2 separate regions of the Homo sapiens genome follow, and region 1 is linked to region 2. Evidence: fine-mapped expression QTL. A gene starts in region 2. The other region holds a variant in brackets. All regions are shown on one strand. Distances are between the middles of the regions.

What was found. PIP is the estimated chance that this variant, and not a neighbour inherited with it, causes the effect. A credible set is the group of variants that fine-mapping cannot tell apart.
Region 1: its variant is the best candidate, but not a certain one, in a credible set for the expression of PMP22 in whole blood (INTERVAL, PIP 0.77).

The regions. Positions count from the first base shown.
Region 1 is chr17:15,485,373-15,495,377 of GRCh38, reverse strand. The region is part of intron 4 of TVP23C-CDRT4 (TVP23C-CDRT4 readthrough); the gene reads left to right. Among named protein-coding and RNA genes, the nearest start is that of CDRT3, 20 kb to the right of the region's middle. RefSeq lists enhancers at 4,249-4,543, 3,833-5,032. The variant G/A (reference allele first, on the strand shown) is at 5,574.
Region 2 is chr17:15,261,936-15,271,834 of GRCh38, reverse strand. It overlaps PMP22 (peripheral myelin protein 22), which reads left to right and starts at 6,509. Exons shown (of 5, transcript NM_000304.4): 1 at 6,509-6,681. It overlaps LOC124903931 (a long non-coding RNA gene), which reads right to left. Exons shown (of 2, transcript XR_007065632.1): 2 at 5,926-6,379.

The sequences.
Region 1 (10,005 bases), 220 kb before region 2:
AGTGGGAAAGGAGAATCGTGAACTTGGGCTCATTTCTTCGCAAGAGAAGTTTAAAAGATGAACTTTCAGTGACCACAATGTGACCATATCCCCAGTTTTCATGATTTATTTCGACAGTCAGTTGTTGGCCTAACCTCTGCTAATCAAGCAGGCTGTACCAATATCTAGCTTTTCATCATATGGAGGGCAAGATGCCTTCTGAGCTTCATGAATCAGAAAGTAATCATTATCTTAGCTACAACAACATCTCTTCTTCTACAGCATCAATTTTAAAAGAACAAAAAGTCTTCAAGACCTTCATTTATCATTTTCCCTCCTCCTCTCCTCCACCCCCCCCATCCCCTCCTCTGTCTCTCCTCATACAGCTGGTTCATGTTCTGTGTATTAGTGGTTGAGATCAGAGTTTCTCAACTTCAGCACCACTGACATTTTGGGTCAGAAAATTCTTTTTGGGGGTTGGCTTTTTCACTGTAGGATTTTAGCAGATTTCCTGGCTTTGACACACAGACACCAGTAGCACTCTCTTGTCCCTCTTCCTCCTCAGCTGTAACAATGAAAAATACTTCTAGATTTAGCCAGATGTCCCCTGGGGGGCAAAATTGACCCCTGTTGAGAAGCACTGGCTTAGACAAATTACAGATGAAAACATCTGCAGTCACTGTCAGTAGTAAGTGCTCTTATACGTGGTATTACTGATATTATAGTATCCAACAATATCATCTGATAAAGGAATTTGCCTATTAATAAATTAGAATAAAAGCCAACTGCTTTATGCTAAGCTCAACATTTATCATGGAGTCTCTTTTTCCAGCATCTTACAAACAGTGTGTACTGTTTTTGCTACTTGGGTATAATTTAGAAGATGTGTCTATATTTTGGTTTCTTCTCTTAGTGACCAAATTAATGAGCTTTTTTCTTGGTAAGTATTATTTTGCACTTGTTCTACAGAAAATTAATTGACTTCCCAGGGAGTGGTTTAATATAATTTCTTTCTTTTCTTTTCTTTTCTTTTCTTTTTTTTTTTTTTTTGGAGACGGAGTCTTGCTCTGTTGCCCAGGCTGGAGTGCAGTGGCATGATCTCGGCTCACTGCAAGCTCCGCCTCCTGGGTTCACGCCATTCTCCTGCCTCAGCCTCCCGAGTAGCTGGGACTACAGGCGCCCACCACCACTCTGTATTTTTAGTAGAGATGGGGTTTCAACATGTTAGCCAGAATGGTCTCGATCTCCTGACCTCGTGATCCGCCCTCCTCAGCCTCCCAAAGTGCTGGGATTACAGGCGTGAGCGAGACTCTGTCTCCAGAAAAAAAAAAAAAAAGGACTACTGGGAACACACTGTTTGCATACGCTTTTCAAATATGTGAAAATGTAGTGAATAATTGGACTTGTTACCTTTTCTTTGGATAGCACTATCTTGCCCAGTGTGGGCTGCTGTAACAAGATGTGGGTTAAACAACAGACATTCATTTCTTGCAGTTCTGAAAGATGGGAAGGCAGAGATCAGTGTCTGGTGAAGGCCCTCTGCCTGGCTTGCAGATGGCCAGGCATCTGCAGAGGGAGAGAGAGAGAGGAAGGGAGGGAGAGAGAGAGGAGGGAGGGAGAGAAGAGGGAGTGAGAAAGGAAGGGAGGGAGGGAGAGAGAGAGGAAGGGAGGGAGGGAAAGAGGAAGAGAGGGAGAGAGAGAGGGAGAGGGGGAGGGAGAGAGGGAGGGAGAGAGGAAGGAAAAGAGGAAGAGGGGGTGGGTGAGGGAGAAAGGGAGGAGTAGGGGAGAGAGAGCAGGAGGATGGGAGAGAGAGGGAGGGAGGGAGAGAAGGGGAGTGAGCAAGCACACTTGCTCTGGTCTCTTTATCCCCTTATAAGGGCACTAATCCCCTTCATCAAGCTCCAGCCTCATGACCCAATGACCTCCTGAAGGCCCACCTCCTAATACCAGGAATGTTGGTGGTTTTCACACCCATGTAAGAAAGGCTAAGTTAGTGCTGTTAACATTAATTTAGATGAGAATGACAGACCCCAAGATAGACAGTACTGCAAATGCCTATGAGTTCCTTCTCCAGGCTACACAGCAGGCTCCCTGAGGGCAGGAGCAGGTTTCTGGATCCCTGTGAGTCTCCCCAATGGACTCCCAGCACAGGGCTCTGTCCCAAAGCGGACAAAGCTCTTGGCATGACAGGGTGAGACTGCGTGGCGTTTCTGTTCTGGCTGCCTGTGCCGCTGGAGATTCACATTCACCAAAGAGTGAAGCCCAGAGTTGAAATGCAGACAGACAGGTCCACAATGGCCAGGCCCTGTGGGGTTTAGCTGCACAAATCCATTCTTTTGACAAAGATTGGTGCTCCCAGGGCGTAGCACAGCTCAGCAATGGAAGCTGACCCCCCGCGGTGGCCCTGGCAGCAGCCTGGGGCAGGCTGTGCATGCCATGCCTTGCTCTCTGGGAGGGCACAAGGCTGTGCTTTCTGTTCAGCAGCTGTTCCTCTTCCAGCTGATTCGCTTCTAACCTAGAACCAGGCTTGGACTAGGGGGCAGGGGGCAGGTAGTCTGCTCCTTCCTGTGACCAGTCTCTAAGAACACACCTGTCTTCATGTCCCTTGGCCCTGCTTGCTCTCTGATCAGCCCAAGACTTCACCCACGTTCACGTCCATTTCTCTTTGGGAGTCTGGGGGTCCTTCTGTGGGGGGCTTGAGCATCGCTGCTCCTTTGGGTGACTCCCCATTGCCCTGCCGCAGAAGGAGCAGGATTGTAATTGATGGTTTTCCATCTGGAGCACAGGTACGTCTTGGGGAAATGGGGATGTGAAAAATAGAAGTAGGCTCATTTAAGAACTATTTTGTTTTATGTCCATTTTTGAAAAGTCTTACTGAAGGGTGCACAGCATTGGTTAGGAGGATGGTTTGGGTGTGGTTCTAGGGGACAACCTGCTGCTGGGAGACCTGGGTGGCAGGAACAGCAGCTGTAGTGATAGTGAGATGATGATGATGATGATGACGATGATGACGATGATGATGATGACGATGATGATGATGGCAATGTAACATCTATTGCACACCTACTGTTTCAAAATCGAGTAAATATACTCATTAGTTCCCCACAATCCTACTGTCATCCTTGTTTGACAATTGAGGAAATTGAGACCTGAGAGGTTGAGAGGCTTGTCCAATGTCATGGGCTATGAAGTCAAGATACCAGGTATTACTCCTGGCTACGGGACCTTAGAGAAGATGCTCAAGGTGGTGGTCTCCATAGTTGAGAAATCAAAGATGGATTGGTTGACTCCCAGATGTTTTTTTTTTTCTCTAGCAAATGTTAACAAGTTTAGCCCAAGCTGCCTCCTTACATATTTTAAGTTCCACCTAAACATTCCGCTGTGCAGATGATAACCTAACTGGATGTGTACAGAGACTGTAACCGAGGCTTGTAGCCACTAGCCCAGTGTCAGCCCATCAGAGCAGCTGAGTGTCAGCTAATCACAGGCGATCAACTGCTCAAACTGTGTTCAAATCAGGCAGACACGGAGCCGTAAGCAGCCTAGCTGTTTCTGTTTTCTGTAGATCACTTTCTTTTTCTGTCTATAAATCCTCTCCGACCATGCACCAGAGTCACTGTGGGTGTGCTGAGTCTGTCTAATTCTTGAATAATTTTTTGCTCAATTAACTCTATTAAATTTATCTAACGTGTTTTTTTTAAACACAAATATTCTCTTATAATCTCTGAAAGTCCTTTTATTTAGGCCAAACCCTAAAAAATATGCGTGAAGTGGAATCTTCTCTCTGTGCTTCTTCCCTTCCCACGACTCTCACCAGTCTTACTCCAGCCCCTGAAGGGAACCAGTGCCTTTGCATAATTTACTGTTATTTTTGCTTCCATAAGACGTTTCTTGAATCCTTCCCTTATACCAAGGAGTAAATGCATGACAAAATGTTGGAGCATTTCTTTTCTATGTAATGATGAAATGACAGGCAGCAGCCAGCAGGTAGTAGCAAATAAATGTCTAGCATCATTCCAGTTTTAAAAAGTCTGTTTTTCCAAAAGTTTCCCATCCTGCCCCCATCCCCAGTTAAAAGTATGAGAACAGTAAGGCCTAGAAAGGGGCCTCAACCATGATTATGAGTTGTCTGTAAACCTGGACCAGAGTTCAGGTCTCCGGATCCTCCATCAGGAAATCACAGGGTGGGGTGAGTAACATGAAGCCGGCTTCCACTCTGGGATGTCAGATTCCTGGCATGGGGTGATGCAGGGGGCTTGGAACATTCCAGAGGAAACAAAAGCGAGATGAGCAGAGACAAAGAGCTGTGAACACCAGGTTCAAAATGCATGAGTGAGGGTGTTGGAAAACTTCCCAGGGGTGGTGGCTGCCCAAGTCAAAGGACACCAACAGGAAATGCAAAGTCCCAGGGTCCCAGGGCTAGCAGGAAGCTTTGCCTCCAGGCTGTGGTGCTTGCTGGGCCTCTATGCTTCGAAGAGCCGGCCCGAGGTGACTCAGATTTCCTGAGAAGCCTCTTATCACAGCCAGCACAGACATCTGTGCCTTTCCTCGCCTGAGATGTCACCAGCTCAGGGCCACTCCCTGCCCCAGCCAGATCAATGGGCCTTTCACGGCTTCTGAGGGTGGATCCTAGGAGTGCCCCTGTGACGAATGCTCAGATGACTGCCTCTCTAGGATTTCTGTTTGTTTCTGCTTCGCAGTCTTCCCTCCACCCAGAAGCTCCCGAATGTCCAGGAAGAATTGACTAATTCTCTCCATGAGTTTCTTGCCCACAGGACGAATGGAGCCATTGCTGTAACAACCTTATTTTCCACTAAGTCAGAATAAGAGACCTGGACAGAAAGAGAGTAATGGCTGAGGCACAAGGAGCGAGTATTTTAAATCAGGCTTATGAATGTGCTCTGTGGATACGGTTTGCCCATAGGGAGGTGGTTTTGGGGGTTGCGAATCATACTCAAGCTGTCCCTGACCGACTCACCAGTATTCTACAAACTTACTACAAACCTCTCAAAGGACCATCTTGGAAGACACTAGCAAGGGCGTGAACAATCCCCTCTGACGTTGCTGGCTGGTGGTGGAGGCCACGGAGCCTCCCTGTGTGAGACTGTACTATGTGGTCACTAGAACGTTTTGAAAGACAGTTCTCTGCAGGCCCGGCACCGTGGCTCACGTCTGTAATCCCAGCATTTTGGGAGGCTGAGGCGGGTGGATCACGAGGTCAAGAGATCGAGATCACCCTGGCCAACATGGTGAAACCCTGTCTCTACTAAAAATACAAAAATTAGCCGGGCGTGGTGGCGGGCACCTGTAGTCCTAGCTACTCAGGAGGCTGAGGCAGGAGAATGGCGTGAACCCGGGAGGCGGAGCTTGCAGTGAGCTGAGATTGCGCAACTACACTTCAGCCTGGCGATAGAGCGAGACTCCATCTCAAAAAAAAAAAAAAAAAAAAAGAAAAGGAAAAAGAAAGACAGTTCTCTGCAAATAGATACCCCAAGGGTTATTCTTTTTAAGTTGATCTTTAGTCTTAGAGCTGTGAAGGATCCCTAAAATTCTTCCACTTTAGAATTAAGGAACTAGAGTTTTGGAAGAGTTAG[G/A]TGATTGCCCTAAACCTTTATAATGTTAGTGACATTGTTAAAACTCAAATGTGAGCTTCCTGACTCTCAATCTAAGGTGCTTTCCACTCCCCCCAACCCCCACAGCAGATCGACCCTCTTCCCACAGAGAAGGCAGTTTTTATTTTCCAAACAGCTCCTTTGCCAACCAGTAAGTTAACAGAAGATGCCAGACTCAATATGACACCATCATAGCCAGGCCAGGTTAATTCCAGATACCGGGTCCTCTGATTTAAACACAGCCTTTTGGCTGGATGCAGTGGTTCACTCCTGTAATGTCAGTGCTTTGGGAGACTGAGGCAGGAGGATGGCTTGAGGCCAGGATTTTGAGACCAACGTGGGCAGCACAGTGAGACCCCCTCCTCTACAATTTTTTTTTTCTAATTAGCTAGAGTGAGCTGTGATTGTGCCACTGCACTCCAGCCTGGGCAACAGAACGAGACCCTGTCTTTAAAAAAAATACAAAAAAATTAGCTGGGCATGGTGGCGGGCGCCTGTAGTCCCAGCTACACGGGAGGCTGAGGCAGGAGAATGGCGTGAACCCAGGAGGCGGAGCTTGCAGTGAGCCAAGATTGTGCCACTGCACTCCAGCCTGGATGACAGAGTGAGACTCCGTCTCAAAAAAAAATAAAAATGAAAATAAAAATAAAAAATTAAATTAAAAAACAGCCTTTTAAAGAAATTCCAAAGATAAAGAGAACAGCTAAGAAAAAGACACCCAAGATCCTCACCCCTAGGTTTCCAGGGACTTTCTGTCCCTAGGCAGAGATACTGAGAAGGGGAAGCGGAAAGGATGCTGCATGAAGCTCCTCGCCGGCCTGCTTGCTGGGCTGCTCACCCCAAGAAGGGAGGCCCACCTGCCTCCAAAGTGGCAGTTCTGGGGCATAAACATTCCCAGAGCCCAGCATCACACCATGCCCTTGGGAAACCCATGTGGAGGAGGCCCCATTGCTGCACCCGAGGGGCTTGCAGTCTGGTGTTGAAGACACCAGTTGATGACAGCTGTTGATGACAGCTGGAGCAATGACCATGATAAGAGCTTTCATCATAGATGTGATGTTCTGTAGAAACACAGGGGAATGAGGGGCTGAGAGTAGAGAAGGATTCCTAGATAGGGCACAAGCAGGACTGTCTTGTGAAGCATGGGTAGAGTTTCTACAGGTGGAGGAGGGGAGAGGATTCCAGGAGCTTGGGCTGCTGCACAGCCAAGTGTCCTGTCTGATGGGGGCGACGTCCCTGGGACTTGTTCCTTGGAACTCGAGTCCTTGGAGATGAGCCAGTAAAAGAGGAGGTTCTGGGGTCAAATATGTCAGGGTGGGTATCCCACTATGTGGCCTTCTTAGAGTTCCACGATGTGCAAAGCTTACTGCAGGCTCTTAGCAAACCAAACCAAACACGACAAAACCTGTTTAACCATTTTTAAGCACAGGGAATTCTCTCTTTTTGTTTCAGAGAACATCTACTTTCATCTCGGGGAACCAGGACTCCACTGGATTCATTTTGACCTAGGGCAGTGGAAAGGGAGGGGAGGAAGAGCTTTGACTTTGGAAAAGCCAGCGCCTGCTAAGGAGTTCAGGATTGCATCCCACAGGCAGTGGCAGCAGTGGTAGGACTTTTCCCCCTTATATAACATTTTTTCCTGACTATCTAAGTAATGTATATTCATTGTACAAAACTTGCAAGGCCCCAAAATCTCCCCAAACAACAAACAACCTCAGAAAAGAAATCTGGTTGCCCATAAGACAGTGCACAGAAATAACCACATAACCACTGAAGATAGATGTCTATTGAGTGCCTTCTGGGTGCTGGCCTCTGTTCTAGGTCCTGTGGATTCGACAATGAATACATCCAGTGAAAATTCCCACCCTTGTGCAAGTTACCTTCTAGTTGGTGTTGCAGGTAATAGACAAAATGAATAAGTATCTAGTGGCCTAAATAATCAGAAGGATAATGAAGAAACATGAAGCAAGAAAGTGATTGGGGAGCGTATACCACCACCATGGGCAGATGTGGGCTGCCAGGAGGGCCGCTTTGGCAAGTGACAGGGTGATGTTTGGATGATGACTTGAGAGAGGTAAAGTAGTGACATATGTCATAGTAATGACATAGATAAATGGAGGGAGAAGGAGGAGCAGGTGCAAAGATTTGCGTCTGTAGTGTGCATGTTTGAGGCACAACAAGGAGGCTACAGTGGCTGGGGCAGGAGGAGCCAGGAGGGGGACAGTAGGAGAAGTGAAGATCAGAGATTGGGGAGAGAGCGTCGGTAGAATGTGAGGCTTTGAATGATGATGCTTCTGTCTGCATAGTAGGGGGAGCCAGGGCAGAGTTTTAAAATAGCTCTACAGTGGTCCCTCCCCTTATTGACAATTTTGCTTTCCAAAAGTTACCAGCTTGAGTTACCAGCCATCAACTGTGGTCCAAAAACATAAAATGGAAAATTCCAGAAATAATTCATATTTTAAATTGCACCTCTTAGCCACTTAGTAGCTGACTCAGTTATCAAATCCACTGTGGCAGCATTGCAGTGCATGTGTTCAAGGAACCCTTATTTTACTTAGTAATGGCCCCTGGGTGCAAGAGTGGCAGTGCTGGCAATTCAGATATGCCAAAGAGAAGTCATAAAGTGCTTCCTTCAAGTGAAAAGGTGAAAGTTCTCAATGACGGAAAAAAAAACATCTGCTGACGTTGTTAAGTTCTACAGTAAGAATGAACCTTCTTCAAGCCTGTAATCCCAGCACTTTGGGAGGCCGAGGTGGCAGATCACGAGTTCAAGAGATTGAGACCATCCTGGCCAACATGGTGAAACCCTGTCTCTACTAAAAATACAAAAACTAGCTAGGCATGGTGGCACGCACCGGTAATGCCAGCTACTCAGGAGGCTGAAGTAGGAGAATCACTTGAACCCGGGAGGTGGAGGTTGCAGTGAGCCGAGACTGCACCATTGCACTCCAGCCTGGGTGACAGAGCGAGACTCCATCTCAAAAAAAAAAAAAAAGAAAAGAAAAGAGAAAAGAAAGAAAAAGAACGAATGTTCTATCTGTGAAACTGTGAAATTGTGAATCAGGAAAAAGAAATTCCTACTAGTTTTGCTGTCGCAATTCAAACTGCAAAAGCTATGACCATGATGTATGACAAGTGCTTAGTTAAGATGGAAAAAGCATTAAATTTGTGGGTAGAAGACATGAACAGAAACATGTTCCACGTTCTGACTAATGGCAATCAGGTTTGGTGCTATCCACAGTTTCAGGAATCCACTGGCGGTCTTGGAATGTAATCCCTGTGGATAAGGCGGGACTACTTTATGGAGATAGAATTCATGTACCATAAATTCACTCATGGCCAGTGTACCATTCAGTGGTTGTTAGTATATTCATAGAATTGTGTAATTTCAGAAACTTCATCCCTATTAACAGTCACACCCCATTCCTCTCTCCCCTAACCCTTGACAACCATCAATGTACTTTCTGTCTGCAGATTTGCTTATGCTGGTCATATCACGTAAATGGACCACAGGATATAGGGTCTTCTGTGACTGGCTTATTTTATGCAGGATAATATCTTCAGGGTTCATCCACATTGGAACATGTATCCGTACCCGAGTTCTTTTTATTGACAAATATGATCTTGTTATATGGATGTACCACATCTGCATGCCCCTTGCAGGGTTTGAGCAGAGGAGTGGTGGGATCTGATTTTGATGGGACCACTATGCCTGCTGTGTGGAGATAAATGGAGATGGGCAAGTGTGGAACCAGGGAGGCTGGTTAGGAGGCTGCTGAAATGTAGTTGAGGATGTTTTGGGCCTGGGTGATAGCCGTGGAGGTGGTAAATGTTGGAGCACCCCAGGACTCAGATTGGTTTCTCTTTATCTATATATACTTCCTAGGTGACCTCACCCAGTCTCTAAGTTTCAAATATCTTCTTGCAATGGACTGAATGCTAGTGTGGTAGGAGTTATTAAGAAATTATTTTAGGGTGAGTGTGGTGGCTCACGCCTATAATCCTAGCACTTTGGGAGGCCTAGGTGGGCGGAGCACTTGAGGTCAGGAGTTGGAAACTAGCCTGGCCAACATGGTGAAACCCTGTCTCTACTAAAAACTTCATCTCTGCAGCCCAAATGCCCTCTAGGTGTTTGCTTATTCTTGCTTGACCTCTCTACTCACCAATTCTCTGGTAGACACTACTTTTCTAGGCTCCTTGGCTGGGCTATGAATTAAATTGACATAAGACAGAATAGCAGGAGAAAAACTACGTTTAATTATGTATTAATTAATTAATACATTAATTATGTGGGACATGGGAGTCCCACAAAATATGAGACTTGAGAGGTTAAGTGATTGAAGCTTGTATAGCATCCTCAGCTACAGAAAGGAATAGGGACTTGGAACTTCTGGGGGGTGGTAGCGGAACAAGT
Region 2 (9,899 bases):
CCCTCTTCGCTGGCCTGGAGTCCTTAAGCCTCTACCTCCTGCCTTCAAATCTGCCTTTTCATTTCCTGAAGTGACTGTCGTCAGCTCGCCTCCATGGTTAGAGACTAGAATCGTGGAGCCCAATGTTTCCAACAGTGAGGTCCGTGGAACCTAAGTCTTGGAGGTAACCTGGGAATAAAAATTCCATGGTCCCATACATTTAGAAAATGCTTTGTAATCGTGTTTCCTCCTAGCGATTCCCAAGACACAGTTGCAGGTTAAATGATCCAAGATTAGACAGGAGTAAAGCAGGAGAGCATGGGGACTGTCCCCTGGGGAGGATGGGCAGAAACATTTTGCTGGGATGAGGAATTCGAAAATGACCTGGGGTCTCCCAATAATCAAGGAGCTCACAAAATCATAGAATTCAGATAGTCAAGTGATTGCGGTTTCATTATGGTTTCACATTGTGAGGCTGGAACGTGAGAGAGAGAGAGGGAAAAAAAATGGAAGGGGATAGAGAGAGGTAAAGGGAGGGAGGGTAGGGAAAGCAAGAGGGAGAGGGATTCTGAGAAAGAAGGCAATGCAGTAGGTGATAGACCATTGGAAACCATGAGAGTTTTCTCCCTCGGTCAAATTGACCATAAATGTCAGTGCAGTTTTACTCATCTGAACCACATGTCTGACCATGCTCTTGCTGTGGGTTGGAGGGATTCTCATATTTAAAGTCACATAACTAAACCAATGAACTGTTGGCTCATTCAGGCTCCCTCAAGACCAAGAAACTTCAAAACCACTTCTCTTTTTTCCTTTTATTTTTCTTAATCTCCCAATGTATTTAAATAAGTATAAGGTACAGTTATTAAACTCATGGTCTATATAAATGCCTGCATTTTACCATCAACATTGTAAGATGCACAGCTTATTCCAATACTGCCATACCACCTCTGTGCCTGGAGTGACTCCACTTGGGGTCAGTGCAAAAGATGAAGCAAGACCTGGCTCGTGGCCCTCCCAGTGCCTCCCTGGGGTTGACGCAGTGTGCGTTTCCTACACCGAAGTTACAGAGTCACAGACTCCTTATGATGGAGGCACAAGGCTGAGATGTGCGATCGCTCGTCACAATGAATCCTGTTATGTGTTCAGCTCCATGCAGTTATTTCTCCCATTTAATGTTAGAACTTGGAGACACAGTGTTGAACAAATTCTGTCATATTGCATTCTTCAGTCTTCGCATTCTTTCAGTTTTACTTTCATTTTTGTCACAGTGGTACTCAAAGACTGTACATTTGGTGGCATTTAGTGGTCAAGAACCTGGGGTCTTGGCTTCAAGTGGTCAAAGTTTATATATTGGCTCCACCATTTTCTCACTGTGTGGGTGTCTTGGGGGTCACGGCAGTTCTCCCCTCGTGGGATTGTTGGAGGTATTTAATGAGAGGGTTAGCACAGTGCCTGGCACATAGCCAGTGCTCAACAAATTATAGGTGTGCTATTTTGTATCCATCACGAATGGCTCTTCATTTCATTAAACATTCTTCTTGGACATTATTTTTTAATACTTACATAATATTTCATCTTATGACTGTACCAAAAGTTACTCAATCATTCCTCTAGTCTTTGAGATTTAGGATGTTCACACTTTTCTTTGTTATAAAACATATCACCTTTATTTGGCTATGAATACCATTATAGCCAAATTTTTGCATATCCATGACTTTCTAAAGATACATTTCTAGAATTTTAATTTCTGAGCCCAAAATTTAAAGTAAAACAATTATATGAGGCCCAGGCTTACCACTGAAACCCTCTAGATTAGATATTTCCTAGTCTAACAATGAAGAGTAAACATTCTTGAAGTTTTGCCCGGCTTTCCCTTGAACGTCTCGAAAGGATTTGACCTTTGTCTGTGAACTTCCCTGGATTAGCTGAGGTTTCACACTTGATAAGTGGTGCAGGAACTCAGAGATGAAGAAAACATCTGGTCTCCAGTTCATTTTAAGTACAACTGGTGCTCCCTAGGCTCAGAAGTGCACACAGAATGATGCATTGTGGGGACTATGATGCGTCGTGGGGCTTGTCCTCCCAGGGTCCCATCCAGGACCGTTTGCGTTCACCTCGTCCTTGCTGGAGATTAATGCTCCATTTCTTGGTGTGGCTTCGACTGCCTGAAGCAGGCATTTCCTTGGGTTACATGGGCCTTCCTGTGCACCTCTCTCAATAAGGACAATCTCTCACATCAAGCCAAGGCTGCTTTTCTCGACATTTCTATGCCTGGTCTGCAGTGGCCTAGAAAATCCCTGCATTCCTCCCCATTCCGTCCATTCCCGTGTGGCAAGATTGCTCTGCTTCCCCATTTTATTTGAACCTATGCCCTACTGGAGCAGAAGCATTTTCACTTAGGAGTAAACAGTCTTAGAAAAGTTTTAGAGTTTGCAATCCCAAGTACACATCCATTTCTGACTCTTGCTTAAATTGCTCCCCAATCCTCTAGCTGCTAACTCATGAGATGTCAGAGAAAAGACTGCTTTCCCCCCTCCACTTGCATCTGTGGAATCTGGCTTTCCTAAGCAACAATGCATTTGTGAACAGAGAATCCTTTGTACTTGGTCTGGTCCCACTGCCACAACATAATAATTCTGTGACTTCTCTCTCCCACAGGTGAAGGAGTTAATATACAATTTACTCCAAGATACCTTTCTATATTTTAAAGATGTCATTTAGGGAACAGTCCTGTGCCAATGTGAGTTTTTTTTTGTGTGTGTCTTTATGTTGCTTTCTGACTGCGTCTGTGTTGTTCATAAAGAATATCTTCTAGGGATTGGGACCTGTCATAATTTCAAACTTGCTTATTTGTAGAAGATTCTGTCACAGAAGTCAAACTGGCTCCTTCTGTTCCTTTTCTTCTCCCTTCTCCTTCTCTTCCCTCCCCTCTTCCTATCTATATCTCCCTCCCTCCCTCTCTCCTTCCATCTTTCCTTCCTTCCTTCCTTCCTCCCTCCCTCCCTCTTTCCTTCCTTCCTTCCTTCCTTCCCCTCTGCCTTCTTTCCCTGCCTTGCTTGTTCTTTCAACAAGCTGCTCTCACTCGACATCAAAACAGTCTAGCTGAGTCTAGATGAGGCAGGACTGACTTTTGAGGACCCTTCCAGGCCAGCTGTGTCCAGGGCTGGCCAAGAACTCCCACACAGGCTGCTGGCTATGAGGACACAGGAAAGACTTCATTCTTAGTGTAAACACTTTTCAGATATTGACTGAGCACCTGGTGGGATAGATGCTGCAACAACAACTTCATCACCTGGACAAACACCAAATTCAGACTTGCCTCTGGTTTTCTCTCTGGGGAGCCTGCACAGTGAAAAAATTACAGGTTTGGGAGTCAGAGGAATGGACTTTTTTAAGCCCCAGCCCTGGCATTCACTAGCTAGTCCCTGGAGGAAACACTGTAAATTTTCCAAGCCTCAGTTTCTTCACATAGAAAATGATTATAATGATTCCTCTTAAATAAGATACTGCCATATGTTAACAGCATTTTATTAGCTATAAAGTGCGGAAGGGTTTCCTCCCTCTTCAAGAGTCTGCTGGGATTCCACTGTCATGGACAACATTTCATTCTTATGAAATTAAAATCTCACCTACAGGCAGGATTCTGCCAGTGCTTATGCTATACAGACATATGGAATGCAAATGTCCTCGGAGGAGCACACAGCCTTGTTGGCAGGATGAGACAGGATTCTTGAAAGCTGTACTAAATGTGACTGGTGCTGAAAAAAAAATGGATGTCTTAGGATATGTTCTTGCTTTTTAATGGAAAAAGAAACGTGAATGCATAAATATGTATAATGTGAGAATATCTTTCATACAAATAGGACATTAAATGATAGTGTCTATGGAAGCATGATGAGAAGATATGCTAGGAACGTGCTGGGCACAATTAGGGGCACGGTAGAATGTGAGATAGTCCAGGCTGTGAGTACGGGATCTGTAGCCAGAATGCCTGGTTGGAATCCAGCCTCTGTCATTTCTTTGCAGTGTGTCTTGAGAAAGTGACTGAACATCTCGCTGTGCCTCAGTTTCTCCCTCTTCTAAAAGAGGATGATGGGGTGCCTATTTCATACGGTTGTGAGGATTAAGTGATTTGATGCATATAAAATATTCAAGATGGTGCCTGGCATATGCTAAACACGAAGTAAATATAACCTATTATCATCATTATCAAGGACTTGCGGATAACTGATGCTACTGAGCCGATGGAGCGTGGTGTAGCAGAACAGCTCAGGTGCTAGAAATAGCCAGTCTCATTGACTCAACTGTGTTTCCTCAGAGAATCCCGATTCTCATTTTTCCTATCTGTAAATGGAAGGGAGGATAGCAAATAATAATAAATGTTATTTGGTGACTATTCTATGTGTTTATTTTGCAAGAGGCTCAGTGGGATATAGCCTACAGCTTTGCAGAGACATTGCTCAACACAGATGCATGGGATAGGGGTCCCATTTGGCTGAGAAAAGGTTATTGGAAATGGGAGACGAGGAAGGAGTTTTCCTCACCTGACTCTGGGAAGGGAAGAGAGTCTGGCCCAGATGGGTAAAGACAAGTGTGTTGGCATCTGGTAGACAGGGCCAGTGGCACACAACAGTGAACAGCTCTACTGCTGACAGCCAACAGGGACTTCGGGGTTTGGCTGCTGGAGATGGAGGACCTGGGCAAAAGAGACGTGAGGCCAAGAGAGCAGGTCTCAGAATGTGGAGCTCATGGAAGGAGAGAGGGAGGGCTAATCAGACTGCTCCTATCTGGCCAGAAGCCATGCCCCACACTCACCAGGCCCTACCCCTTTTCCTCTGAATCTTTAGCTCTTAGATCAGAAATAATCTTACGTGTCTTCAGGCTTGATCCTGGCCTGACGGACAGCAGCCTCTGTCGTGTAGCCTTTGGAGCTGATCATGGCAGTACCCAGGAAAAGACTGTCTGGAGAGGCTGCAAAAACCATGCTCACTGTTCCCAGTCCCCGTACAGACCATGTCAGAGGAGGACTGAGGGAGGCTCCTCTCTCTCTCTCTCTGTCACACACACGCACACGCGCACACACACACACACAGATACACGCGCACACACACACACCGTTTTGCCTGGCAGAACAGACTTATAACTTGCATAATACTGCAGCAGCCCACACTGTACCTCATCTCCATTTGGGTTCCACAACAGAAGGGAGCTGGAAGGAAATCAGCGACAATCTAACTCCACATGACAACCTGGCTGGACAACGAAACATCCAGCGGGGAGAAAGACACTGGAAATTACCCATACCTGAGCCCCATCCCAAAACACCTGAGTCAGCTTCTCTGACCATGGCCCAGGCTAGGTCATTTGCAAAGCTCTTGAGTGATTCTAAAGAACCACTGCTGTGAAAAATAAAAATGATTTCAGCAAAGAGAGAAAGGTGAAACTATTTTATTGGCACTGGCTGTGATGCTGGCTGTGAGCAGATGCTGGCTGTGGGCAGAACAGGGGAGAGGGCCATTGAGAGGCCCTTGTGACTGGAGAGTCCAATCAAACGTAAAGTGTGTGACAGGGAGGGACTCCTCCAAATTCTGCAGGTCTCTCCAGACTGGGGATCCCTAACACAAGAGGAAGTCTTATGCCCCAAGTGCCAGAATTCCAGGAAACTCATGCAATGAAACCAGTCCTCTTGTGTCAGAGTTTGCAGCTAGAAGCGGTTCAAGGGATGGAGGACTCTCTGGGAGCTGGAGTGGTACGCTGCAAAGAACCTAAATATGCCATAACTTCCTTTACTTCCCTCTCCAAGAATTTCCAATTGCTCTTCCAGCCTATTCTGCCTGACAGGTTAGAAAGTTTTCAATAGTTTTCAATAGAGGTTCGTTTACTTGCATTGAATTATCTCATGAAGGTCAGCTTGATTCGGGCACATTAAAGACAGAGTCGGAAGAACACATTTCCCTAAGTTTTATTCTAATGTACAACACATGTGATCATTTGCGATGGGGTCTAGGCAGACAAGGCAGGTAACAGGGAGTCCTTCCAACCAGGGGTTGGAACAAAGGAGGCTTGATTTGGTGACTCTTGAGACATTTGGCTCACTGCTGTGATGCTGTGAGAGATTAGCTGTGCAATGTTTGGGCTCCTTAAAAGGAAGTTTATTTAAAATAAAACTTACCTGCACGTATGTAACACTGTAGACACAGATCCTTCCCACAGTATATTTAATCTCTGCAGAATTCACTGGGAGGGGAGGGGAGCCAGTGGGACCTCTTGGCTATTACACAGGTTGGCACTTCCAGAGAGAACAGTCTTGGCATCACAGGCTTCAGGCATACTCAAAGCTCTTCTCCCTTCTGATTCCAGTTTCTCCATGCCCTGCAGGGCCTCTTGGGATTATTGTATTCTGGAAAGCAAACAAAGTTGGACACTGTCTCTTTAAATAATAGAGGCTGAGAACCTCTCAGGCCACCATGACATATCCCAGCATTGGACCAGCCCCTGAATAAACTGGAAAGACGCCTGGTCTGGCTTCAGTTACAGGGAGCACCACCAGGGAACATCTCGGGGAGCCTGGTTGGAAGCTGCAGGCTTAGTCTGTCGGCTGCGGGTCTCTGACTGCCCTGTGGGGAGGGTCTTGCCTTAACATCCCTTGCATTTGGCTGCAAAGAAATCTGCTTGGAAGAAGGGGTTACGCTGTTTGGCCGGGTGAGTTTTATTGGCAAACTGTGCCTCTGGGTGATGTGTGCCTATGCTTTACAAGAATTGCCTAATTTCCCACCCCCTGCAAGCCGCAAATGAAAAGGATTGCAGGAGAGATGGTGCATTTGTGTTGGAATTGACTGGAGATTCAGAGGGCTTTTTATATCCTTGGTTAAAAGGTGGATATATACTCTGGCTGGGGAGGTGGGGGGCCATCTGAGAGCATCTAGAAACCCTAATGCATCCAGATTGAAAGGAAGAAAGGAATCTAGATGCTTTTTCCCCCATGGAAAATAGCTGTGCACACACAGCTGGCAGGTGGCCTTGGTAAGCAGGTTAGGGAGAAGCTGCCACCTGTGGCAGAGCCTTGGCCAGCCGGGCTCTGGGTGTGGCAAGCCTGGTCAGCAGGCACTGAGTAGCACTTCCTCTGCCACCATTGAGAACCAGGCAGGAGGCCAGAGGCAGTGAGGGACAGATGGGTTGGGTTTACCTGTCTGGCAGTATATGGTGTGGCTGTGACCTGGGTGGTTATTGATTAAACTATTGGGTTCAAAAGAAAGGAAGAAGCGAGCTGTAGCACCCAATATATGCACTTTTCTGTATGTGTATTAGACTTTATTAAAAAGTTTATTTGAAAATCACAAAGGAAGGGAAAGAAAACCCTGAGTTAGATATGCTCATATTTCTAAAGTGCTTACTTAGAACAGTCCTGAGTATGTTGTGATCACATAAGTGTTGGTTAAATAAATAAATGTCCAAATGGCATAAAACAAAGTAATAATTTCTAGAGCAAATCTAACTTATAAAATGACCTGTGGAGGAAAGAAAACACTGCCATGTCTTTAGACTTTTTTTTCTACTTGCATATGCACTTTCATTTATAAATCTTTATCTATCTATCTATATCTATCTATCTATCTATCTATCTACCTACCTACCTACCTACCTATCAGAGTTACAAGCTACTTTAGTGCAGAGGTGGTCAGGTCTTCCCTGAAAGGTTGATGTGAGAGTTAAATGTGATATAATAATAGTGGTGGCAATTTGGGCACTGGGCCCTTATTATGTTGCAGACACGATGTTAACTGCTTTGTACATATTGTCTCCTTCAATCACCACCATAAACCTTTAAAGCAGGCATTACTATTTCCTTTTGCACCTGAGAAAACTGAAGCTCAGTGAACTTGAGAAATTGCCCAAATTCACAACAAAAGTAAGCAGGGTGATTAGGTTTGTTGGAGCCCAGAGCCAGAGTGCCTAACCACTGCACCATACTGCCTCTCACAGACCATGCATATAAAGTCCAGGCAAAGTGCTTGGCATATAACGGGCACTGTAAATGCAGTGTTTACAAGTACACTTCATTTTAATCTGATAACACGATAGTTTTAAAAAGATCATTGTTTGAAGATCTTTTTCAAATTTATTTTTACTTACCGTAAGAATATACAATTAGCTAAAATAGCAGCTCCTTTCAAATCGTAAAATAATATAGAATTATTTGAATCATTGAGAGTGATGAGCTTCTATGACACAGTACACTAGAGGTAGGGAAGTGTGTGTGTGTGTGTGTGTGCGCGCGCGTGCGTGAACTGCTGCATTTTCAGGCAGAAACCTTTAACATCCACATTCCTGCTCCCTGTCCCGTGCCTCAAGGCTGGCCTGCGCACGGGAGTCTCAGTTGGGCGCGCCTCTGCCAAGCCGAGACTGAAGGGGGCTAGCCTCTCTCCCTGTAACGCTGGGCGGGCCACGTTAGGAGGCTATGAATCAGCTGATTTCCTTGGCTGCTCCAACCCCACCTCAAATGGCCACCTCGCACCCGCCCGCCAAACCCCATGGCCAGGACTCCAGCCAAGGCTGACAGCCAAGCCCGACTGCTGCAGGAACACTTTGCCTAGAGCTTATTCGGTGGTAGTCTGGTTTTGCCTAGGCTAGGAGGAGCCCAATCCCAGACCATGCTATCCAGTAGTCGGCCGGACTTTTCTTCCCCTAATTCGCACCCAAGAGGAGCCCGCTAGATCAATCCCCGCCAATCCTAGGAAGCTGGCATGCTTCGTAGGTGCAGACAGTAATAGCGGGGACCGGCGCGGGGCAGGTGTGTCCGGCTAAGACGCCAGGACAGGGCAGGGGCTCCAGGACCCGAGAGGAGAGGGACTTCTTCCAGCGCTCAAGCGCCCGCTGCCCTCTATTAGTGGGAAAGGAATCCAGCCTCAGCCCCGCGCGGGCGCGGTCGGCGTCGGCGGGCCCAGAAGCCCAGCCCTGGGCATCCGCTGAGCTACATTTGGCTGGGTCTTCCCAGAGTGGGCTGAGGAGCCAGTTTCTCGGTCAACACTAGGTCTCCACGGGGCCAGGGGAGAAGGGAGGTGGGAGGTGAGAAAGCTCAGCCGCCTCTGGTTTCGAGTAAAAGTCGCCGCGGTTTTGCAGGGACCGACTTTTTCTTGAGGCGCATTTAAGGCCAAGTGACTGTCTCCTGCCCTCCCTCTCTCCTGCCCCCTCTCCTCCCTGAGTCCCGCCCTCCCGCACACGCTGACCCAGGGACACACCCTACTGCAGCGACGCAAACAGGGCGTTGTTCCCGTTAAAGGGGAACGCCAGGAGCCTCCCACTGCCCCCTTGCTTCGCGCGCGCGCAGCCCCGCAGCGCAGCTTTGGCGGCGCCAGCAGCGGAGCCAACGCACCCGAGTTTGTGTTTGAGGCCACCCTGAGGATCGGGACAGCTGTTCCTTTGGGCTGTAAGTGATTTGGTGGGGAGAGTGAAGGAGATGGAGGAGAAATGTGGGCATCTTCCAGTGAGGGTGCCAGAAAGCGCAGCGCAGGCGCGGGGCTTTGGCCAGCTCCCTGGGGCTTCTGTTTAGGGGCACAGGGTCCCCTGTGTGTCCTGTTTCCCTCCAATGGGTCTTGGAGTAATACAACGAGGAGAGCCTTTATGGTCTATAAGACCTTACAGGGCAAGGGTGATGGTGCTGGTGTCTGGATAGCGGATAAGGGCGGCCCAGTTCTCGCCTTGCTGAAGAGGCGTTGACTCTGGGACACACTGGCAAAACAGTCCCTGTGGCGGACATCCCGAGAGTGTTGGACTCCTGTGGTTCCCCAGTTCCCAGCCTCCTGCCATCGGCTTAATTCAAACCCTCTGGGAGTCATCAGAAATCCTTGTTTATTTCTTCCAGTGCATTCCAGAGTTTCTTTGAATGTGATGCTTGTGGAGAGGAACAGAGGGGCCTGGGA